Regions from separate parts of the Homo sapiens genome. Here all the other regions are linked to region 3. The links come from fine-mapping of genetic effects on gene expression. A gene starts in region 3. Each other region holds a variant in brackets. All regions are shown on one strand. Distances are from middle to middle. Region 1 overlaps CRYBB1 (crystallin beta B1). Region 2 overlaps HPS4 (HPS4 biogenesis of lysosomal organelles complex 3 subunit 2). Region 3 holds the start of ASPHD2 (aspartate beta-hydroxylase domain containing 2).

Region 1 (8,180 bases), 170 kb before region 3:
GCACTGGAATGAGTGGGGAGCCTTCCAGCCACAGATGCAGTCCCTGCGTCGCCTGCGTGACAAGCAGTGGCACCTCGAGGGGTCCTTCCCTGTCCTGGCCACAGAGCCCCCCAAGTGAGTCCACACCTCACTCTGCTACCTTGCCCCAACCCTTCTTCATGTTCAATTATTTCCCCCATTTTTCCCAGGCAAATAAAATTCCCTAAAGCCAAAATTTCTCCTGGATCTGTAAACAGATGTGTGCCTTGAGGTCCCCCATAGTTACTGGGATGTGACTTCCTCGCTCTTAATAATTACAACGATAATAAAAGCAGCAAACACTGAAAAGTTCTTTCTGCCTGTTATGTGAGTCTACCAAATGTGTAGGCAGAAATGAATAAGGCCAAGTTCCTGCCGTCAAGGAGTTTGCTCCACCTAGCAGGGGAAACCCAGATACACCTGTGAGATGCTGTCCAAGGATACTAGGTAAGAGATGGTCCAGCCAGGGCATTCGTGCAGCAGGTCAGAGGAGGCAGGTTGGTTTCTGGGTCCTGAATGGATGTGTTGGGGTGGAGGACAAGTACTTGGCCTTACTCATTATGAAGACTGCTCCAGGAGGTTGGTATGAGGAAATTGAGGTTCAGAGAGGGGAAGTGATTTTCCCAAGGTCACACAGTTAGCAAGTCAAGACTTGAATTCAGGCTGTCTGGCTCCAGAGCCTGTACTCTTCAAGACAAATCTATAAATTTTTTTCAAACTGTAGCCAGTTGAGCATCCCCCCTCAGGATTTTTTGCACTGTCTGCATGCCACCTGGTCTACTTTTGACATATTTTTATTTAAATAGACTTATTTTTTGTCCTTAAATGCACTGATTTGTAAATAAATCCTTATAATGCTCCAAGAAGTGGAAAATCAGCATCATATACATAGAAAGCAATCACACAGGCTGGGCGTGGTGGCTCACCCCTGTAATCCCAACACTTTGGGAGGCTGAGGTGGGTAGATCACTTGAAGTCAGGAGTTGGAGACCAGCCTGGCCAACATCGCGAAACCCCATCTCTACAAAAATTCCAAAAGTTAACCCAGCATGGTGGCGTGCGCCTGTAATCCCAGCTATTCGGGAGACTGAGGTGGCAGGATCACTTGAGGCTTTAGCCTGGGAATTTGAGGCTACAGTGAGTCGTGATCATGCCACTGGACTCCAGCCTGGGCAACAGAGTGAGATCCTGTCAAAGAAAGAAAGAGAGAGAGAGCGAGAAAGAGAAAGAGAGAAGGAAGGAAAGGAGAGAGAGAGAAAGGAAGGAAGGAAGCAGGCAGTCGTATAAATAAATCAAATACAATTTAAAGAAGGCCAAGTATCAAATTTCCAGCAGATACCACTGCCTGCAACCTGTTCACTCTTCGACAAAATGGGAGATTAGCCAGTGTTGAAAAGTGTGAAAGAGGACCGGGTGCGGTGGCTCACGCCTGTAATCCCAGCACTTCGGGAGGCCGAGGCAGGCAGATCACTTGAGGTCAGGAGTTCGAGACCAGCCTGGCCAACATGGTGAAACCCCGTCTCTACAAAAATATAAAAAATTAGCCGGCTGTGGTGGCGGGTGCCTGTAATCCCAGCTACTTGGGAGGCTGAGGCAGGAAAATCGCTTGAACCGGGAGGCAGAGGTTGCAGTGAGCCAAGATTGCGCCACTGTACTCCAGCCTGGGTGACAGAGTGAGACTCCACCTCAAAAAAAAAGAAGAAAAAAAACCAACAAAACAAAGAAAAGTGTGAAAGATGTTTGCACCAAACTGAGACTTTTTTCCTCCTTGATTTAATCAATAAAGGTTGAAAAGAGCATCGTTTTCTTGTATCTGATTCAGTGTTACTCAATCCTGGAGCTGGGGTACATCAGGAATCATCTCATTTGGAAATCTGTGCCAGACACTATTGTTTCCCATATCAACAGTTAATATTGATTGATGTTATTAATCATTAATCTATGCAGACAGCCTGGTGGAACGGGGTGTCGGGGTTGCTATGGATATCTTCCTGGAGGAGGGAATATCTGAAGGGGGCCTTGAAAGATGGAGCAGGAGCTTGCTTGATGGAGAATAGGGGAGATGATATTCCAGGCAGAGCAAACAGCAGTGTCCCCGCTACCCCATATGGCACCTTTGTGCAAATGATAAAAAGATGTCTCTTCCTCAAGACATTTTACTGCCATCTGTTAGAAATTATTGGTATAAATCTGGGACGTCTACCATGTAAATGTGATACCCTTGTGCTGTGCCCAACATGCTCAGCTGAACTTGGCAGCCCTGGAGCACCATGAACAAAGGCATAGAGGTTGAGAGAGTTGTGGTGGGCCCCGGTGAAGCTTATTGAGGTGGGAACATTAGCTTGGTGGTTGTGTGGGCAGAAGCACAGGGTGGGACGGATACACTTGTACGTCAGGAGATAAAGCTGGCAAGAAAGATAGGGCCTCATGACACCCCACCCTGTGGTTTTGCTGAGCTTCAAAGTTGAGACACCACCTCACATAATCTTGGACAGGTCTCACTCACCTTCCCTCATCTCACTTTCATTCTCCCCACCTCAACACTCTTGGCCAGCATCTTGGACTAGAAGACAGGGCTGTCTGCGGACCAGGATTCCTGGACAGAAATCGGGAATAAAAGGGTATTAACCCTGCTGTACTGTTAGAAGTTGGAAAGAACTAGGCAAATTGCATCCATTCCCTGGGACTTGTTTTTCTCTTCTATAAAACGACAGCTCAAATACCCATCCAGCCCCAAGATTCTGAGGTTCCAAAGTTCTATGACTCTCTAAGGTTCTGATATTTATCTCTAAGCTTCTGTGATTCTCTGATTCCAAAGCCAAGCCACATGGATCCCCATTCTAAGTTCTTAAGGTCTGTGAGTAAAGCTCTAAAATTCTACTGCAGTGGAGTCCATCTTCACAGTCATATGAGCCCCCTGAAATTGACTTCCATAGTTCTTTACCTTCAAGGTCTTATTGTTGGTAAGATGCACTATGATTTTATAATTCCAGGAGGAAAAAGAGAAATAATACCAATCAAAACATAACACAATTGTTTTCTGATCACTCAGAATTTTTATACTTATTGAAAGAATTATTTTCAACTTATTTAGATTTAACAGATTTTTTTTCAGTGTATCAATCTGATAAGTCCTATAAAAGGTAAACATACTAGAAATTCATCAGTTAAGTCAGTTCTAAAACCTCTTT[G/A]CGGCCAGGCACAGTGGTTCATGCCTGTAATCCCAGCACTTTGGGAGTCTGAGGCAGGTGGATCACTTAAGGTCAGGAGTTTGAGACCAGCCTGGTCAACATGGTGAAGCCCCATCTCTATTAAAAATATAAAAAATTAGCCGGACATGGTGGTGCACACCTGTAATCCCAGCTGCTCTGGAGGCTGAGGCAGCAGAATAGCTTGAACCCAGGAGGTGGAGGTTGCAGTGAGATCGTGCCACTGCATGTCAGCTTGGGCGACAGAACAAGCTTCCATCTCAAAAATAAAATAAAATAAAAACTCTTTGCATTGATGGTCCAGATTCTGGCCTGGCACAGTGGCTTATACCTATAATCCCAGTATTTTGGAAGGCTAAGGTGGGAGGATCACTTGAGCCCAGGAATTTGAGATCAGCCTGGGCAAGATGGTGAGACCTTACCTCTACAAAAAATAAAAAATAAGCTGGGTGCAGTGGTGCATGCCTGTAGTCCCAGCTACTGTGGAGGCTGAGGCAGGAGGATCCCTTGAGCCCAGGAGTTCCAGGCAGCAGTAAGCTATGAATGTGCCACTGCACTCCAGTCTGGGGAACAGAGCAAGACCCTGTCTCTAAAAACAAAAACAAGGCCATACATGGTGGCTCACGCCTGCAATCCCAGCACTTTGGGAGGCTGAGGTGGGAGGATCACTTGAGCCCAGGAGTTTGAGACCAGCCTGGGCAACACAGGGAGACCCCATCTCTACAAAAAATTAAAAACAAAACACAGAGTCCAGGTCTTCTGGATCACTTTCATCTCACAGGCATTTTTTTTTTTTTTTTTGAGACGGAGTTTTGCTCTTGTTGTCCAGGCTGGAGTGCAATGGCCCGATCTTGGCTCACTGCAACCTCCGCCTCCCAGGTTCAAGCGATTTTCCTGCCTCAGCCTCCCGAGTAGCTGGGATTATAGGCATGCGCCACCATGCCTGGCTAATTTTTTGTATTTTTAGTAGAGACGGGGGTTTTTCCATGTTGGTCAGGCTGGTCTCGAACTCCCAACCTTACTTGATCCTCCTGCCTCGGCCTCCCAAAGTGCTGGGATTACAGGCGTAAGCCACTGCGCCTGGCCTCACAGGCATTTTAAAATGTGCATATTAGCATCACTGAAACAAGATATGTACACTTGGCAGAATAAACACCAGAAGAAAATAACAATTAAAGTCATTTTATATTTAATGTATTGTTTGCTAATGAATTTATGAATAAACAAAATGCCTTGTAATAACAAAGGAGGACATATAAAATTATAAGCAAAAAATAAAGAATAGAGACTAAAAGAAGCAAGTTAAAGAAAATAACATGTAGTAAGGCTGAGAGTGAGTGTGACTTAGGAACCATAAACCTGGTGTTCCTTCCATGGGTCCTAGTTTCAACATATCTCTCAAAACATGAGCATCTCACCACCTGGAGCAGAATTTCAGAGCTTAAAGATAAGCCACACTTTTGCCTTCAAACTAAAACTAAGGTTTCATTTCATCAGGTGCTCAACCCCAGAAATCATGATGAGTCCAAGTTTAATATTGACGGAAACCAGTGAAGCTGGACTTCCAAGGGGCTATGTTGCCTTCAGCCTTTTCGGGGGCTTCTCCAAGGCAATTTTGACTGCATGGGTTTGGCTCTAAATGCTGGCTTTTTGTTTGTTTGTTTTGGTTTTTGTTTTTTGTTTTTTGTTTTAGCTAGAGTCTCACTCTATCGCCCAGGCTGGAGTGCAGTGGCGCAATCTCAGCCCACCACAACCTCCACCTCCCGGGTTCAAGCAGGAGTGTCCCTAAGCACTGGCTTTAAAATACAATGCCTGAGGAAACTGGGGACTTCATATTGTTTCAAAGCTAGATAGATCCCAGCTTGTGAATCTTTGAGTCTCAGGCCTTTGGAAAGGCAAAGCATCTTGATTATGAGAGAGCGGCTCTCATTCTCATCGACAAGAGGCAACCCGTAATCTTTTAGACATTGGAGCATAAGCCCAACGCCGGCAGTGTGTATATGTGGGGTGGAGGCAGGAGGATCACCCAGAGGCATTGAATGCTTTTGTGCCAGCATGAGATGCTGATAAATACACAGCAACTGGGCTCTGGGGAAAAGACATGGTTCCAGGGTGCCCTGCAGAGGTTCTAAAGAGATGAGCCTTCTTAGAGCCAAACTGCCACGACAGCCAATAGCCTGGGTCAGATACTTAGGATCAACGAATGCTTTGTGAAGCCTGGATCCCCAGCTAGGAACAATAATACTACACCCTTCCAGCAGGAGAAGAAAACCTGCCCACTTACTTTTACTTCCTGCCCACTGCCGAGCCACTGCCTTCTATCAGTGTACTAGAAAGGGTGAGAGAGACCTGAGTTTGCATTCCAGCTCTGACAATTACCAGCTATTATCCTTGGCCAAATCAAATTACCTGCTGGAGCCTCTGTTTCCACATCTGTAAAATGGGAGTAATGATAATAAAACACCAAAAGCTTGGAGAGGGTAAATGATCAGCTTGAATATAATAATTATAAGGTGTTTAGCACATAGCAAGCACCTGAATAAAGTGTTTTCTGTGGTTGGGCATGGTGGCTCACACTTGTAATCCCAGCACTTTGGGAGTCCAAGACAGGTGGATCACTTGAGGTCAGGAGTTGGAGACGAGCCTGGCCAACATGAAGAAATCCCATCTCTACTCCAAATACAAAAATTAGCCAGGCATATTGGCGCATGCTTGTAATCCCAGATACTCAATAGGCTGAAGCAGGAGGACTGCTTGGACCCAGGAGGCGGAGGTTGCAGTGAGCCGAGATCACACCACTGTACTCCAGCCTGGGCAACAGAGTGAGACTCTGTCTCAAAGAAATAAATAAATAAAATAAAAATAAATAAAATGGTTTTTAAAAAAATTTTAATTAAAAAAAAAAAGTAGAGACAAGGTCTCACCATGTTGCCCAGGCTGGTCTCAATCTCCTGGGTTCAAGCTATCCTCCCTCTTCAGCCTCCCACAGTGCTGGAATTACAGGAGTGAGCCATTGAGCCTGGCCTAAAGTGTAATTATTGACATAACATCAACCTCATCCTCTTGAATGTCAGAGCTGGAAAGAATTTTTGGATCAATGTGTATTATGCTACATCTATTCTTCCTGCTTTTGATAAATATTCTTCCTGCTTTTGATAAAACCTCTTAAGTACTGGGTTTTGCCTAGATGCTGGGAAGATAGGTTGGGGAGGAAGACAGAAGAGGTATCTGCTCTAGGTGTTCCCGGCTGAAGATGCAGACAGGAGGAATGAATTATTTTGTCTGCCTTCAAAGTCACATCAAATTCCTGGGCTGCACAGTCTGGTGTCTGGTCCACCACGATGTCCTGAGGGGCAATTAGCCTTCCTCAAGGAGGTGACAGACAGATTGAGACCTGGAAAGGTTCACTGAGCTAGGGGTACTGAGAGAAGTCCCAACCTAGACAACAAGACGATCATTCTGATCCTCCTCCTTAGCCTCTCAACTGAGATCTGCCAATTCTGTCTTCCAAACCTCTCCGGAACCAAAACACCCCCTCCATGCCCACATCCCCTCTCTGGGTTCCTGAATTATTTCAACACCCTCCAAACCAGTTTCTGCCTGTTTCTTCTTCACACAGCACCAGAGGGATCTTTGCAGAAAGTCAGGCTCCCCATGCCCTTCCCCTGTTGAACACCTTCCCTGTCTCTCCATCACTGCAAGAGAAAAGCCCCGACTCCTTCCCACAGCCCACAAAGCTCTGCAGCATCCAGCCCTGCAGACACCTCTGATCTCTTCTCTCACCTCCACCACATCCTGTCCACTCTGCACTTCATGCAAGGCCCCAGGCTCGCTTCCTTCCTGCTAGGCCTTTGCACCTGCTAGATTCTGTGACCAGTGCACTCTTCCAAGGATCCCCACCCATGCCTCTGGCATGTATACACACGCCTGGCCCTCCCTCCCTGGACCAGGTTAATCTCTGCTGCTCCTGCCTCATCAGTTACAGGTGCTCACTTTACTGTGAAGGCTTGTTGAAGGATCTAGCTTCCCCAACTTGGACCTTTGTCCCCCTGTTAGCTGCTGAATCTGTGCCTAGCATAGAGAGCTCAGGAAATGCCATTGCTAGAATGTTATTAAACAAATGCCCCCATTCACACCTCTTCCTCTGAACTCCATTTTTTTCATCCACAAAAGGACATTATAAAACACCCTGCTGGTGTTTAATCTATGTGTCTATCAAATCAGTCATATGAAGTCTCTAACATGCACGCAATAAACACTATGTAATGTTGTTGTATTGTTTCCAGACCAGTAATGGCTGGCTCCATGGAGGCAGCTTTATCAGTCCCAGCATTTTCCATAAGGCAAGCACTAACTATTTATTGGACACATGAATGAATTAATGAATGACCAATGAATGAACATGTGGCTGGCCATGGGCAAATTACTTAATATCTGTGTGCCCTAGTTTCTGTGTGTGTGTGTGTGTGTGTGTGTGTGTGTGTGTGTGTACTCACCCAGGATGGAGTGCAGTGGTGCGATCTACACTCACTGTAACCTCTGCCTCCTGGGTTCAAGCAATTCTCGTGCCTCAGCCTCCCAAGTAGGGGGAATTACAGGTGAGCAGCACCATGCCCTGCTCATTTTTTTTTTTTTTTTTTGAGACGGAGTCTCACTCTGTCGCCCAGGTGGGAGTGCAGTGGTGCGATCTTGGCTCACTGCAACCTCCACCTCCTGGGTTCAAGCGATTCTTCTGCCTCAGCCTCCTGAGTAGCTGGGACTACAGGCATGCACCACCATGCCCAGCTAATTTTTGTATTTTTAGTAGAAACAGGGTTTCACCATATTGGTCAGGCTGGTCTTGGATTCCTGACCTGGTGATCCACCCGCATCGGCCTCCCAAAGTGCTGGGATTGCATTTTTTTTTTTTTTTTTGAGACAGAGTCTCACTTGTTGCCCAGGCTGGAGTGCAGT
Region 2 (8,180 bases), 38 kb before region 3:
AGTTCTGAGTATAGAGAGGTAGAATAGTCCCAAGCCATGGCACAGCTTTCACTGTGTGACACATTCTCCTTTTCCAGGCTTTGAGCTACACCCTGTCCAGCTGTTCTGTACAACCCTTTCCCCTTTTCTCCCTTCCTGATTGTGAGCATGCTGATGGGTGGGCATGATGCCTCTTGCCCTGCACAGGTGGAGCCCCTGTTGTTGCTGAAGGCAGCCCGCATTCTGCAGACCTGCCAGCGCTCGCCTCACATTCTCGCTGGCTGCATCCTCTATAAAGGACTGTGAGTAACTCCAGACCCCTTTCTTCCAGCCCCATTCCCTTGCTGCACAACTGACCATCAGCCACCTCCAGATCACAGTGGGGAGCCCAGTCTCTGGCCAGTTCCAAGTGGGCTGGTTCGGCAAATATCAGGTAGTTTAGATTTGACTCAGTTTAGAAAGACAGGTGTGTACCTGTCTTTGAGCAAAGCTGAGAAATTGGAAATAGTTGTGTTCAGAAAAGAGTTAAGAATGTCCCTATAATTCTCAGTATGGGGCATGCTGGAATAGTTGTCAGTCTGCAAAATGCTAATGCAGAGTCCCGAGCGTTGCCAGCAGCCAGCACTGTAGTCAAGAGGCATGGAAGGGGCCTGCTGTGACCCTCCTCCTGCTGCCCAGAGACCCTGGTGTGCTTGCCTCAGCTCAGCTCTGCAAAGCAGCCTTACAGGCCCTTATCCAGCTGCCTTCAAGCCTCTTGGCTGGGCCAGTGTCTTGGTTGGCCTCTGAGAATTCACTTCACTTCTTCATGTAGTTGGAGGGCTTCTTGGTGAATCTGAGTGCCCAAGAGCCACTCTAGGTCATCTAAGGCCTCTCTCCTCATGGAGGGTTTGCTGTCACAGCCCAGGGCAGGCAGGGCCATTGCGCTGTGCCCGGAGCTTCCTGAGGAGCAGGCAACTACTGTGTAAATGGAGAAGCACTGAGGCTCTCGCAGGGGCCCTTGGGCCAGACAGGCTCGGCCCCAGATCCTCCCTTCTTTCGCCAGCCATGCGGCCTTGGGCAAGTTGCTTAGCCTCAATTTTCTCTTCTGGGAAATAGACATCCCTTGTGAAGAATGAAATGAGATGACAGATGCGGAAGAACCGAGCATAGACCCTGGTGGGCTTTGCACTCTTCTTCCTTGCCCCGGTTCTTATCATGATGGTTCTGAATCAGCTGTGGGATTTCCAAGTTCGTCAGTGACATACCCACCAAAGACAGTATTTTTTTTCCCCTTTTCTCATTTTGCATTTCTTAAATGTATATATATATATTTTTTTTTCTTTTTTTTTTTTTTGTAGGGACGAGGTCTTGCTATGTTGCCCAGGCTGGTCTCAAACACCTGGCTTCAAGCGATCCTCAGCTTCCCAAACTGCTTGGATTATAGACATAAGCCACTGCACCCAGCCTGTATTTACATTATACGGCTAATACATGAATACATTTTCACTGTAAACAAATCAATCAATAGAGGAACACACAGAGCACAATTTAAAAGCCCCCCTTCTTTCTTCACCATTTTTGTTTGTTTGTTTTTGAGACACAGTCTTGCTTTGTTGCCCAGGCTGTAGTGTAGTGGCATAAACACAGCTTACTACAGCCTCGACCTCTTGGACTCAAGTGATCCTCCCACGTAGCTGGAACAACAAGCACTTGCTACCACACCTGGCCAAGCTTTTGATTTTTTTTTTTTTTTTTTTTGTAGAGATGGGATCTCACTATGTTGCTCATGGAGGTCTCAAACTCCTAAGCTCAAGTTATTCTCCCACCTCAGCCTCCCAAAGTGCTGTGATTGCAGGAGTAAGCCACTGTGCCCAGCCTCTCCCTCACTCTTAACCTGTCCTCACCATTGGCAGTTTGGTGGGCATCTTGCTCTTTCTGTGTGTTTGTCCCCACTGGTACATGTATGCATATATTGCTTTTGTTTATTTTTGCTATCTCCTTAAATAGGATCACATGGTTTCTCAACGCATACAGTGAAGATTTCCTTACCGGTTCATATGGGTCTACCTCATTCTTATGAGGACTGCATACTTTTTGGGATTCTGGCTGTGTTGTGCTTTACTGTCTTGTTGATGAACATTTTGGTGGTTTACTCATTTTTTAATTGTTTTTACCATTCTCCCTGTAATGAATATTCTTACGCATACATCTTGGTACAAGCTGAGTCAAAGGGTTTGGATATTTTAAATGTTGGTAGGAACTGCCAGAGTGCCCTCTGTAAGGGTTTTACCAGTTGAAACTCCCACCAGCCAAGTCCCCAAGATCCTCGTCAACACGGGCTGTTAGGCATCTTTAAAATTTGGAGTGTTTTGGTGTATTTCGTCTCATGGTGTTCTTGTTCTGTGTGTGACCTCCTAGGATTGTCAGCACCCAACTCCCGCCCTCCCTCACCGCCAAGGTCCTGCTTCACCGAACAGCACCTCAGGAGCAGGTATTGTAAAGTCCACCCACCTGGCTGGACAGCATCCCCCAGAGCACTGGTCACTGAGCCTGAGGCTGGAGGGATCAGGAGCAGAGGCCGTGGAGCAGTTGTTTCACTTGGTCTTGTCAGGACCCCAAGTCCTCCAATGTCATTCTCCTCAGTAGTGAAGCCATTGGTGAGGCTGAAAGAAAATGTTTTCTTCCACGAGCTAGGCCTGGATAGTTGTTTTTTCTTCAAACCAAGGAAATCTTGGTTGAATTCGACTTCCCATAAGAATTTGATGTCTCTTTATGTCAAAGAGATGTTAGACTTTTCAGAGACAGACTGTAAAGGATGTGTCTTTAGAAAGATTTAGGGGGTTGGGCACGGTGGTTCACACCTGTAATCCCAGCACTTTGGGTGGCTGAGGTGGGCAGATCACTTGAGGTGAGGAGTTCAAGACCAGCCTGGCCAACATGATGAAACCCATCTCTATTTAAAATACAAAAATTAGCTGGGTGTGGTGGTGCACACCTGTAAATCCCAGCTACTTGGGAGGCTGAGGCAGGAGAATCGCTTGAACCTGGCAGGCAGAGGTTGAGGTGAGCTGAGATCGCGCCACTGCACTCCAGCCTGGGTAGCAAGAGTGAGACTCTGTCTCAAAAAATAAAAATAAAAATAAAAAAATAAGGAAAACAAACTCTTCTAAAATACTTCCATTTTATATTTATTTAATTGTTTTTATATTGAAAAAAAAGCCATGCATGCTCATTGAGAATAAAATTGCCCATCTTTGAACTGTACAGGGATAGCCACTGCCAGCATCTGGCATATCTCCTTCCAGTCCTTTTTTTGTTTTGTGTATGAAGCTGTGGTTTCCAGCGTATCATGAGGCTGTCTTTTTACA[T/C]GTATTAGTGAACAGGCATGTAAAATGCTGGTAGGGCTCTATTCAGCCTCCTCAGCCACTGTGGCTATGGGTGTCAATTCAAGTAGCCTTTCTGGGAAACACTTTGATAATGAGAACGTTAAGGATGCCCTTTATTTTTTTCCTAATAATTTGACTTCTAGGAATATATCTTAAGGAAATAATGTAACTGCTGAAAAAAATTTATACTCAAAACTTGATCACAACAAGCTTTATGAAAGTGAAAAATCAGACAAAACTTGAATGCTTAAAGTAGGAGGTGGCAAATTATGGCCTGTGGGCCACCTGCCTACAAATGAAGTTTTATTTGGCTGCTTTTGAGCTATAATAGCAGAACCAAGTAGGTGGGACAGAGACCATATGCCCTGCAAAGCCAAAAATATTTACTGTCTTGTCTTTTGCACAGAAAGTTTACTAATTACTGGTCTAAGGTAGGTAAATGATTAATTTACTCATATCACTTAAACCTTCATAAAATTTTAATCAGCCGTTTAAAATGGCCAAAGATGTTTTAGTGGCAGGAAATGCGTGTTACTGTTTTAAGCAGAAATATGAAATTTTATATAGTGTGGCCTCAAAAGTATAAAAACTGCATAGGCTTAAGGAAAAAATACCCAATATTAATAGTACTAGCTTGGGGATGAGGGATTGTATGTGATTTTTTTTTTCAACGCTTTGTCTAGAGTAAATTGAGGTTAGGCTTAGTAATCTAAAACATAGTTTTTTAAAAATCACCAAAAAAGGAAGAACACCATATCATTCTAAGATTGAAAGTCATTTTGGCTAGAAGAGCAGTTCTTGTTTGGTTTGGTTTTGTTTTGGTGGGTTCTTTTGGAACCCTCAGATTGAAACGAGAGATGTTTTCATTTTTGAGAAAATCATCAGGTTTTAGGCCCTGATTGTGAACCAGAACAAACGAGAGATTGGGTATAGCATTTTGTTTAAGTCAAATCCTTTATCGTGAGAGTCACAGTATTTTGACATTTTTATTATAATGGAATTTATGTGAATTCTACATCAGGGCTGTGGCAGATGTGACTGTATTCTAGAATATGAGTTCCCCAAAGGTGTAAAAGAGAACAGGAATCCTCAATTTTATTCCCAGAAGGGAGAGAGACTGAGAAAATCAGAACGTAGAGTGTGATGTGAGTTTGGGTGGAGCTGCTGCCTTGCAGCCTGTGTGGGCCCAGGTTCTTGCTTCATCCCAGCCATAGTGGGAGCCAGCAGCTTGGGGGAGCTTCTGTTCCATCTGCTTGGCTCTTAGCATGTGGTTGGGACAAGCTTTCTGGGCCTGGCTAAGTTTTATGAACAGATGGCACAGCAAATTCCTGATGGTTAGGTCAAGAGGAGAATGTGGTGCCCAGCGCCAACTTCTGTGTGTGTTTGTTTTCAGAGACTCCCTACGGGAGAGGATGCCCCGCAGGAACATGGTAAGTAGTGAGGCGCATGGTTGCCTCTTGAGAACGGCGGTCTTTTATGCTACCTACCCCTGTACAAGTTATGCGAAGGAAACCAAGCCATCTGCATGTTTATTTCCTCTGCTCATAATAGGAAAATGGATGTTATGGAGCTTCAAGAATCGAGTTACCCACCAGAACCCTAATGGTAAAGCTATGATTTTAGGCATGCTGTCAAATCCCTGCTTTCAGACCCTCCTTAACTTCATATTGTGAGACTGCTCGGTCAAGTGCCAGGAGATTGTGATTGGGAGAGGGTAAGGCAAACAGCGACTGCCAGAAAGACCTTTTGCAGGATGTGGAGGCGTCCTCAGGAGAGTTATTTCGATTTATTCTGAAGCCTGAGTTGGAGCAGATCCCTTTCTTAGCTTATATCTTCTTCTTGTAAAAGTGCTTTTCAACCTTTCTCTCCCGAACATCTTCCTTCTCCAAAGCTGGGAGTCATGTTGCCTGCAGGGACTCTTTCCTTACTGGGCCCAGGAGTTCGAGGTGCAGTTTGGCAACCTGTGTCCTGGCTGAGGAATGCACTCACAGCACCCCTTTCCGAGCCCACGTGTGGGTTGGATGCATCACGCCAGTGCAGCTATTGCCCCGCTGCCCTCTCTGGCTCAGGGGAAAGTCCTGTTCATATTGCTTTGCAATTCCAGGAGCGGCATTGCCCCCGAATGTCCAGATTATCCCTGTTTTTGTGACCAAAGAGGAAGCCATTAGTCTCCACGAGTTCCCGGTGGAACAGATGACAAGGTAATGGAGTGCACAGAGAGTTAACCTTGCACCACACCTGAGGGACCCCATCGCGTGATTGGTTAAAAAACAAACCTCTGATACATCCCATCGTTCCTTAATTCCATCTTCCCCATGCCCTGTCTTGTAAAGGAGCATCTGAATCTTGAGTTTGTTAAGAAACAGAGTGGCATAGAGAGATGACATTGGCTTTCATATCCCAGCTCTCTTACTTATACCAGCTATGGGACCTTGGGCAAGTCCATTCCCTGCCTGAGCCTCAGTTTTTTCATCTGAAAAGTAGACAAAATAGTATCCCTTTCATGAGTTCATTGTGACACTTGAAAATAGTATAGGTACAGCACCTAGTATAGGGCCTGATGCGTAGGAGACCTTCCAGATGTGGGTCAGTCTTATTCAGTGGGCTCTGCCATTTTCAGTAGGTGAGTCTGGTGTCACTACGTAAAGCCCCAAGGGCCAGATGTTGGTGTATTTTTACTCTTGTGATTTAACTCTGGTGGCCTCTTAGGCTCTGTGGCCTCAGGCACCCCCTTGTCCTTGATGCCTGTGCTTTAGTCTTCACTGTGGAAGGGCACTTGCCCTGCAGTCTGTCAACGTGCCCCTTCCTTACATCTCTCTTGTTTGCCAGGTCTCTAGCATCTCCAGCAGGACTCCAGGATGGTTCAGCCCAGCACCATCCAAAGGGTGGGAGCACATCTGCCCTGAAAGAAAACGCCACTGGCCATGTGGAATCCATGGCCTGGACCACCCCAGATCCCACATCCCCTGACGAAGCTTGTCCAGATGGCAGGAAGGAGAACGGATGCTTGTCTGGCCATGATCTGGAGAGCATCAGGCCCGCAGGACTGCACAACTCTGCCAGGGGTGAGGTTCTTGGCCTCAGCTCCTCCCTGGGGAAGGAACTAGTCTTTCTCCAAGAAGAACTCGACTTGTCTGAAATCCACATTCCAGAGGCTCAGGAAGTGGAAATGGCCTCAGGTCATTTTGCCTTCCTACATGTGCCTGTTCCAGATGGCAGGGCTCCTTACTGCAAGGCATCTCTCAGCGCCTCCAGCAGCCTGGAACCCACGCCTCCTGAGGACACAGCCATCAGCAGCTTGCGCCCTCCCTCTGCTCCTGAGATGCTGACCCAGCATGGAGCCCAAGAGCAGCTCGAAGACCATCCTGGCCATAGCAGCCAAGCCCCCATTCCCAGAGCAGACCCTCTCCCCAGAAGGACCCGCAGGCCCTTGTTATTGCCTCGCTTAGATCCAGGACAGAGAGGAAACAAGCTTCCCACGGGGGAACAAGGCCTGGATGAGGATGTTGATGGGGTCTGTGAAAGCCACGCAGCCCCTGGTCTGGAATGCAGTTCAGGCTCAGCAAACTGTCAGGGTGCTGGCCCCTCTGCAGATGGAATCAGCTCCAGGCTGACACCAGCAGAGTCCTGCATGGGGCTCGTGAGGATGAATCTCTACACTCACTGCGTCAAAGGGCTGGTGCTGTCCCTGCTGGCTGAGGAGCCGCTGCTGGGAGACAGCGCAGCCATAGAGGAAGTGGTGAGTGTCCTCAGACCTTCTCCTGCCCCTCTGCGGCCTCTGCCGATCTCCTGTGCTTCCCTCACAGCACTGTGCCAACACCCAGGGAAGAGATAAAGGCTCAGCCCTCAGTTGTGTGACCCTGGGCAAGACGTTCTTGTTTAGACGATGGAGGTATTACCTGCCTCTGTGGGTTTTTGTGGGGGGTAAGAGTGAGTCAAGCGCATAGCACTGGTGGTGCATTGGCATCCAACAAGTGTTGGTTCTCTTCTTCCGCTGTTTCTAGTTTTGCAGAGCGCAGGCCTTGGAGAAAGGGAAGGCCTGAGATGGAATCCTGGCCCTTGTCCTCTAGCTGTGTGAACTTGCCCACAGACCTTTGTCCCCTTGAGCCTTGGCTAACTCCTCAGTCACGTAGGGATGGTGGTAGACCTTCCTGTTCCAGATGCAGTGAGATAATGCAGGCAGAGACTGCACACGTACGTGCATGTGTTGTGCCGCCCCTGCTCATGGCCTCATTTCCTAGCCTGGACAGCTCTAGGTTCTGTGTCAGCTGGAAACTCCTCCGCAGTGTGTCACAGCCTGGGTTGGGAGTTCCCTAGAAACCCAGTGTTTCCCTCCATAGCCCCAGCATCGTACCTGATCTGAAGCTCCTTCCTAGAAGGCTGGGATGTCTGAAATCCTGCCTGGCTCTGGAGGGCTCTTAAACTATTGCAGCCCCTTCCCCGCTTAGAGGCTTAGAGTGGTAAACTGACCTTCCCTGGGGCCCACGCTGGAGATTCGTTGCTATAGTAACAGCCTTGCTTTAGTAGGCAGGGAAAGTGGTAGCAGTAAGAACAGCAGGTTGAAATTGCTGCAGGGCAAATGGTGTCTTGGGGCTTTCCTTGTTTTTATTCTTAAATGTGTATTATTCTAAGCTGATCTTACTATCATGCAGGGCTTGTGACCCTCCATAAATGAGCTAGTCACCTTGAAATACAGAAGAAGAGATAAGACTGCACAGCAGCTTCCTTGCACAGAGCTCCTAGCAAGAGAATGCTCTCTGGAGCTGTCAGGCTTCTCTGTGCCCTTTCCACAGACGCTGGATCACTGAGTTATGGCTCATTTGCTTCCTGTATCCC
Region 3 (8,164 bases):
TCCAGGCCTCTGCCTCAGTTTCCCACAGCTGACAGCATCTCCAAAACAGCCAGAAGTGCTTTGCCACTTACCTAGCTGGGGGTTAGGGACAGAGCCCGGAACTCTCATTGTCCTAATAACCTAAAAGGGCCTGAATGTCATGCTGCCTAAGTCTCTCAAACCCCAGCCGTGTTTCCCAGCATTCTCCAAAACCTTTTGTTCATCCTGCTTCTTCTAATACAATGAGAACAGCCAGGTCTCTGCTTCTACAAGTCTGATACTCAGGGAGCACAATTTCAAATATCCCTTTTGTACTCTACCCTCTCACAGCTTAAAAAATGGAAAAGTTGTACCCTCCCTTTACCCAGGGACTGAAATTTGGCCTGAAAATTCTTGCAGCATCGTAGCAGAGAGAAGCCAGATTAGAGATGGGCCCAGTTGAGGATTCATCCCAACCTTGGGCAGATCGCTTTTCCTAAGCCTGTTTCTTTTCTTTTGAGACGGAGTTTCACTCTTATCGCCCAGGCTGGGGTGCAATGGTGCAATCTTGGCTCACCACAACCTCCACCTTCCAGGTTCAAGTGATTCTCCTATCTCAGCCTCCTGAGTAGCTGGGATTACAGGCATGCGCCATCACACCCAGCTAATTTTGTATTTTTAGTAGAGATGGGGTTTTTCCATGTTGGTCAGGCTGGTCTTGAAATCCCAATCTCAGGTGATCCGTCCACCTCAGCCTCCCAAAGTGTTGGGATTACAGGCGTGAGCCACTGCGCCTGGCTGCCTCAGTTTCTTTATCCATGAAATGGGGTTCGTGTTCATCTCACTGGATGAAGATGAATGATGGCGGATGGACAGCACTTACGACCACGTCATAATGAGCACCCAATATATGCAGGCGACGGCTAGGATGGGTGGCATCCCATAATGAGTAGCCAGCGTTCCAAAGGTGGGGCACGAGAGAAAGGTATAGCAAGACTCGGAATTCCAACAGTTAAAGGTAAATCCTGGACACTCTTGTTGCCTCATGTATTGAGTGGCTTTTTTGTCCCCAGACTTGCTAAGCTAAAAATGAAAGGGAAACCTTAGGTGCTCATTAACTGCCTACTTGCTTTTTCCCAGTTTCGGTTGAATAATCACTTGACTATAATGTTTAGTAAGTCAAAAACACACATGCTGAATATTCATGGAAATTTTTTATGTTTCTAGGAAAAATACAAGAGTGGGGAGGTTAGAAGCTAAGTTGTTTTTTGTTTTCTTTTGTTTTTTTTTTTTTTTCTTTCCCACACATTCTCAATTTCTTCTCAGATTCAGGAGAAGAGGAAAAGGCTATGACTCACTGGAGGTTAAGAAACCCCTTCAGCCCCCTGTTTCTCTCCTTGTTAGACCATAAACTGGCAGCTGTTACTCTTTAGGAAAAGGAAAGAAAATCCAGATGAAAGATGTTTTGTTTGCAAGCCATCTCCCAAACAGAACCTCAGAGTTCCTGAAATTCAGTGTGAAACAATCATCTATGTGACACCAAGCACTTTTACTAAAAGGATTTCCCCCATCACTGAGCTAAACCCCTACTGGAACTTTTCAACTGAGTCTGTCAGGAGGAAAGGTTTTTTTCTTAAATGTTCTAAGAGTGAGACGGTGATAATTTAACAAGCACCTGTAAAGTGTTAGTTCCCATCAGCCCTGCTGATCACTTAAGTCAAGCAAAATGCAGACACAGAAAACAGGGTGGATGATGGAGAAACCTCTCCACTGGACACCCCAGCCCTGTACTCTTCTCAGGAAAGCCTCCTTCTGTACTAAGCCAGCCATGAGCCCTCCCTAAGGCTGAGCTGTAAGCAAAAGAATGTAAAAGATTCTGAACCCCAGCTTCAGACCCTCCTCCCGAGATCATAAATAGCACTGAGAGCTCAAGTTAGGACTTTTCATACCTGTCAGTCACTTTTAGCCAAAATATGCCAACAGGCCCCTGCACCCGGAGGTGGATTTACAAGCTCAAAGCTGAACTATGACAATAAAAGAAACACATTTGCAGAGTGACTGGCAGTTTATTAAGCACTGCTTCAAACATTTGATCCTCACAGCTACCTAGTGACAACTCCCCATCTACCCAGTGGGGAGAGGAGAGACTCTCTCCCCCGACAGCTCCTTGCCCAGTGACCACAGTAGCTTCCAGCTTCCTTCGCACATCTGTTCATTGTCATCTGTGTTATTTCTGTCCTCATCAGGGATGGGGACATCTCATTGCAGCTCTGCACTTTAATAATAAGCAACCCCAGATCTTCCAGCTCAGTTGGCTCTGGGGAATTGAGTCCAAATCCATGGCCAGTTGGAGAGCAAGTCCAATCCAAGACAACTTCTCACACCATGAACACCTGGGAGAGCCGGTGTCAGGCCTGACCTGGTCAGCCTAGTTCAGATGTCCATTCCCAGAGGCTGCCTAATGCCAAAGAGTGTCTGCTCACCCTCAGGATGAGGCCAAGTCACCCTGGAAGCCCCCCAGTGAGCAGCACTGGGCAAGGTGTGTGATGCCTGTCACCCTCTCCACTCAGGAGCCAGAGAGATGCCGTGGGGCCAGCCCTTCCCGGTGCAGACCTGGGGACCTTCCCTCTCTTGGCCAGCTTCTCAGCACCCACCTGCCCTGGAGAGTGGGAAAGAGGGGAGGGCTGAAGATGGGTTAGCACAGATGGTGACCACCAGGAGGTCAGGGGAGGAGGGGGATGGGACGATGGAAAGGTGAGTGTTGCCCGGAAAAGTGGACGATCAGCTCAAGATTGTGGAAGGAGGTTTATGGCGCCTCATAATTCGTGGGACAGGGGAGGAGGGTCACCACGTGAAATATGGGAAGTGGGTGATGCTGAGGGCTGGGGGAGGGGACAGGAGGTGAGGAAAGAGGGGTCACAGGGGAGAAGGGAGATGGAGGAAGGGACCACGATGGGGCAGGGAAGAGGAGTAGGAGGAGGTCTAGGGAGGGTGATGCCCGGCTCCGAGGCGGCGGCGCTTAGCACGTACGAGCACTGGCCTCGGCCGGGCCGGGATGCGGGCGCCCGGGTCCCGGAGCATCCTCGGCGGGGGCGGCGGCGGCGGCGGCGCCGGTAAGGGAGGGCCGTGGGCCTGCAGCTGCCGGGCTCCCGCCTCCAACCCCTGTCCTGGGGTCGGCCCAGCCGCGCCGCCCTCCCGCCCCGGCAGCCCCCGGAGACGAAGCTTACCTGCGCCCGGGCGCGCGGACGGCTGCCGGGACCCAGGAGACGCCGCCGCCCGAGGGCGCGGACCCGCGGACGGCCCCTGCCCGGCGCCGCGGAGCCGCCGCCTGGCTGCTGCCCAGCCCACGCCGCGGGAGCCCGAGCCGGAGCCCGAGCCCGAGCCTAAGCCGCGCCGGTGCCCCTGCCGGTGCCGACGCCGCGCTGCGCTCCGCGGGGCCGCGAAGACCACAACTCCCACAATGCCGCGCGCGCTGGGCCGCCGGGGGAGGGGGTACGGGGGGGCGGGGCCTGCGGGGCGGGGCCGGGGACCCCCCTGCACCCGGCACCTGCGCTCGCAGTGCGGGAGGCGACCCGAGGCCGCGCCCGCCGCCGCTCCGGAGGGTCCTGGCAGTGCGCCCCGAGACGCAGCGCCCGCCCAGCCCGAGGTTGCGCGCAGGCGGCGACGGGCGTGCAGTCATTCATTAAGAAAGGCTCGCGTCGCTTCCTTCGCTCTTTCGTTTTTCGCTCTGTGTCTTTCTCAGTTCTCCCTCCCTCTGTCTCTCTGTTCCTCTCTGAGTCGCCCTCGTCTCCATTTCCTCCTTTTCATTCTCTTTCACTTCCCCCCCACCTCACTTCCTCTCGCCCTAACGCCTTCTTTCCTTTATTGATGGACTCAACACGGACTTCTGAGGCCCTCAGGCACTTGGAATGGAACCGCAAATCAAACCAGATTCTTAGTCTCATGGAAAACTCATTCGCTCAGTACAGTAATGATGGGCCAGCCTGGGTCCCCGTCCCTGCCAGCTGCGCTGAGCGTGCGCGGTGAGCGCTCAGGCCCGCCCTGCCCTCAGTGAGCCACCGTCTAGCGGGAGGGGACCCTCACCCCCGGGTAGGGTTTAGGAGGGGAAGTACAGGCAGGACGGTTGTCTGACCAGGGGACTGATGAGCTGCGAATGGAGGCCCCAAGGAGGCTGCTTGGAGGAGGTGACGTTTGAGCTAAGACCTGGGGGAGACTAACAGTGGCTACGGGATGTGTTAGGGGCGCCAGGGAAACTGCATGGGTGGGTTCTGGGAGCATAGAGTAGGATGGCCCGCCCACAATCCATCTGTCTCTGTCCCAGACCCACCTCTCTTGTGTCCCAGAATTTATCTCTAACATGGCCCAGAAGCCACCTCATGTCTGTCCCAGAATCCATTTCTCATCCCTATTCCAGAAGCCACCTTCACCCTGTTCCAGAACGTACCTCCTTCCTGTTCCAGAACCCACCTCCCTCCCTGTCCCAGGACCCACCTCCACCCTGTGCCAGAACTCACCTCCTTCCTGTTACAGAACCCACCTCCTCCCTCTTCCAGAACCCACCTCCTCCCTCTTCCAGAGCCCACCTCCTCCCTCTTCCAGAACCTACCTTCTTTCTGTCCCAGGACCCACTTCCACCCTGTCCCAGGACCCACCTCCTCCCTGTCCCAGGACCCACCTCCACCCTGTCCCAGAGCCCACCTCCTCCCTATTCCAGAAGCCACCTTCACCCTGTTCCAGAACATACCTCCTTCCTGTTCCAGAACCCACCTACTCCCTGTCCCAGGACCCACCTTCACCCTGTGCCAGAACCTACCTCCTTCCTGCTACAGAACCCACCTCCTCTCTCTTCTAGAACCCACCTCCTCCCTCTTCCAGAACCCACCTCCTCCCTCTTCCAGAACGCACCTCCTCCCTCTTCCAGAACGCACTTCCTCCCTGTCCCAGGACCCACCTCCTCCCTGTCCCAGGACCCACCTCCACCCTGTGCCAGAACCCACCTCCTCCCTGTTCCAGGACCCACCCCCTCTCTGTTCCAGAACTCACCTCCACCCTGTTCCAGAACTCACCTCCTCCCTGTCCCAGGACCCACCTCCTCCCTGTCCCAGGACCCACCTCCACCCTGTGCCAGAACCCACCTCCTCCCTGTTCCAGGACCCACCCCCTCTCTGTTCCAGAACTCACCTCCACCCTGTTCCAGAACTCACCTCCTCCCTGTCCCAGGACCCACCTCCTCCCTGTCCCAGGACCCACCTCCACCCTGTGCCAGAACCCACCTCCTCCCTGTTCCAGGACCCACCCCCTCTCTGTTCCAGAACTCACTTCCACCCTGTTCCAGAACTCACCTCCTCCCTGTTCCAAGACCCACCTCCACCCTGTCCCAGTACCCACCTCCTCCCTGTTCCAGAAGCCACCTTCACCCTGTTCCAGAATGTACCTCCTCCCTGTCCCAGAGCCCACCTCCACCATGTCCCAGAACCCACCTCTCATCTCTGTCCCAAAATCCACCTGGTCCCTGACCTAAGAATCTGCCTCTACTGTGATAGCCTAAAATCCACCTCCTCCCTGTTCCAGAACCCAGTTTGTCATGTCCCAGAACCCACTTCTTCCATGTCCCAGAGTACACCTCTCCCATGTCCCAGAATACACCTCTTCCATGTCTTAGACTCTTCTTCATCTCTGTCATTTCTCTCCTTTTCTCAACTCCAAAAGAGGAAGAATGTTTTTTCTCTTTTATTCTACTAAAATAAACCAAAACACTTGCATTGGGAAACCATAATATGCACAGATTTGCTCAAAGTGTGGATAATCAACACAGGCATCAGATTTAGAAACATTAAATGGGATGTCTGTCTTCACTGTCAGCCTAAGAGTGGTTGAGCCTGGGTGGGGTGGAGAAAATGGAGTGGGGGGTATTTGACTCATCTCACATTCAGAAAGTTGCTCAAACTTAGAATTCTCCAAAGGCAGTCATACATTCTATCACAGCATTATCCTGGCAGGTTTGAAAAAAAAAAGATATTTTTATATTGTAAATATGTGTTCCATTCCTGCACCATCTTATCTGTACTGTATTATGAATTAATATTGTCTATCAATCCTATAAGTGTCCTTGACCAGTGCAATTATATGATATCTGTAGACCACTGCTCTGCATTTGTTAGTATTTATTTGTTCAATGGCAATATTACTATACACGCAATTTTGTTAGCCCTGCTTACCATTTCTTCATCTTTTTAATTAGCTGGGAGTCTCAATAAATGGAAATGACCTGGGCCTCTGTCAACCCCTTGGAGACCCTACTAGGTGAATTCTGCAGAAAAGGATATCCATGCCTTTCAGAGGGGGATTTTGGGTGAGAGCTCCAGATAAATTGTTACTGTGCTCATGGAGAGGCGGAGAGGAGGACCAAGGGCATCTGAATTGCCTGCCTTCAGCTTGGCTGCCACCTGCATCCTCCTGCTCTCGCTGCCTTCTTTAGCGCAGTCATCCTACCCACTCCGAGACTACACAACCTATCATTACACCGTCTCATACACTCACGGGGTCCACTCAACTCCCTCCTCCTACAGATGGAAGCCCAGAGAGAAAACATGCCTTGCTCAATCAAGGTTGCAGCAAGTCAGTGGAAAATGTGCTTGCGGCCAGCCGTGGTGGCTCACATCTGTAATCCCAGCACTTTGGGAGGCCGAGGCCAGTGGATCACCTGAAGTCAGAAGTCCTAGACCATCCTGATCAACATGTTGAAACCCTGTCTCTACTAAAAGTACAAAAAGTTTTGTATTAATTTTTGTATTAATTAACTACAGGTGTGGTGGTGCACGCCTGTAGTCCCAGCTACTCTGGAGGCTGAGGCAGGAGAATTGCTTGAACCCAGGAGGCAGAGGTTGCAGTGAGCTGAGATTGCACTACTGCATTCCAGCCTGGGTAACAGAGCAAAACTCTCTGAAAGAAGAAAGAAAGAAAGAGAGAGGGAGGGAGGGAGAGAGGGAAGGAGGAAAGGAAGGAAGGAAAGAAAGAAGGGAGGGAGGGAGGGAGATGTGCTTGCTTGGTGCATTAAAGAAACTGGTATGATCACTTTGGAGAGCAGTTTGGTAGTATTCCTTAAAACAACAACAAATATGTATACACTGAAACCAACAATTTCGCTATGCTATATCTAACCTAGAGGGATTCTGGGATAGATGGAAGACTAGTTGTTTTTTCATATTACGTAATACTGTGAAGCTACTAAAAGCAGGAGCTAGATGTATATATAGCAACGTGGATAAAGCTCCTAGAAAAATAATAGGGTGAAAATTAAAAAAAAAGCAGAATTATGATTGTAGTATGATTTTATCTACATAACACGCACCTGTACACATGTGGGTATACACATGTATTTATATAAAAGCAGGGAAAGCACTAGAAGAACACACTAGTATGTTCTCCTATATAAAATGCAAAATAATTACGTTTGTAAATGCAGATAATATCCCTCAGAGGAAGCACACCAAATTCCTAAGAGTTGTAACTTCAGGGGGGACCAAGAAGGAACAAGGAATTGGGAGCAGTAGGCAAGGGAAACTCCAGCATTTTTTGTGATGTTTTAATTTAATATTTTCAAAGGTGTTTAAATACTCCGGAACAACATGCAGAAAGTTACTGGGACCGCGTCACTCTCCTATCCCTCAACCAGTTGGTTTTCTTTAGTGAAGACAGCCATTATAACAAATTTCTTATTCATCTTTTCAGGAATACGCTTTGCATTTGCAAATATTTGGAAATAGCTTAACTTTTAACTTTTAAAAAGTAAGTTTCACTTTTAACAAATAAGTATTAGTATGTTATTTGTGATATTAAAATGGTTTTTAAAGCCGGGCATGGTGGCTCACACCTGTAATCTCAGCTACTTGGGAGGCTGAGGTGGGAGGATTATTTGAGACCAGGATTTCAAGACCACCCTGGACAACATAATGAGAGCTTGTCTCAAAAAAATTTAAATAAAAGAAAAATTTTATTCACATTAAATATTATTTTTCAAGAATGTAGAATTGTTCAACATCAGAAAGTATTTTAATAGAATTCATTCTGTTAACAAAGTAAAGGAGAAGAATGACACCATGATCTCAACAGATGCAGAAAAAGCATTTGACAGAAGTCAAACATCCATTTATGATTAAAACTCCTAGAAAACTGGGAATATAAGAAAATTTTAGGCCGGGCACGG

The links.
Region 1: its variant is fine-mapped to the expression of ASPHD2 in whole blood (INTERVAL, PIP above 0.99).
Region 2: its variant is fine-mapped to the expression of ASPHD2 in whole blood (INTERVAL, PIP above 0.99).

Annotation. Positions count from the first base shown.
Region 1 is chr22:26,591,428-26,599,607 of GRCh38, reverse strand. CRYBB1 (crystallin beta B1) reads left to right here. Exons shown (of 6, transcript NM_001887.4): 6 at 1-330. The coding sequence ends at 118. It also overlaps a transcript of CRYBA4 not described here. Among named protein-coding and RNA genes, the nearest start is that of TPST2, 5.4 kb to the right of the region's middle. RefSeq lists an enhancer at 6,676-6,825. The variant G/A (reference allele first, on the strand shown) is at 3,210.
Region 2 is chr22:26,462,820-26,470,999 of GRCh38, reverse strand. HPS4 (HPS4 biogenesis of lysosomal organelles complex 3 subunit 2) reads left to right here. Exons shown (of 14, transcript NM_022081.6): 7 at 187-281; 8 at 2,377-2,449; 9 at 4,738-4,774; 10 at 5,449-5,545; 11 at 6,174-7,083. Among named protein-coding and RNA genes, the nearest start is that of HPS4, 17 kb to the left of the region's middle. RefSeq lists an enhancer at 1-40. The variant T/C (reference allele first, on the strand shown) is at 3,327.
Region 3 is chr22:26,424,508-26,432,671 of GRCh38, reverse strand. ASPHD2 (aspartate beta-hydroxylase domain containing 2) reads right to left here and starts at 3,412. Exons shown (of 4, transcript NM_020437.5): 1 at 3,186-3,412. RefSeq lists silencers at 1,235-1,529, 3,262-3,321, 3,442-3,571.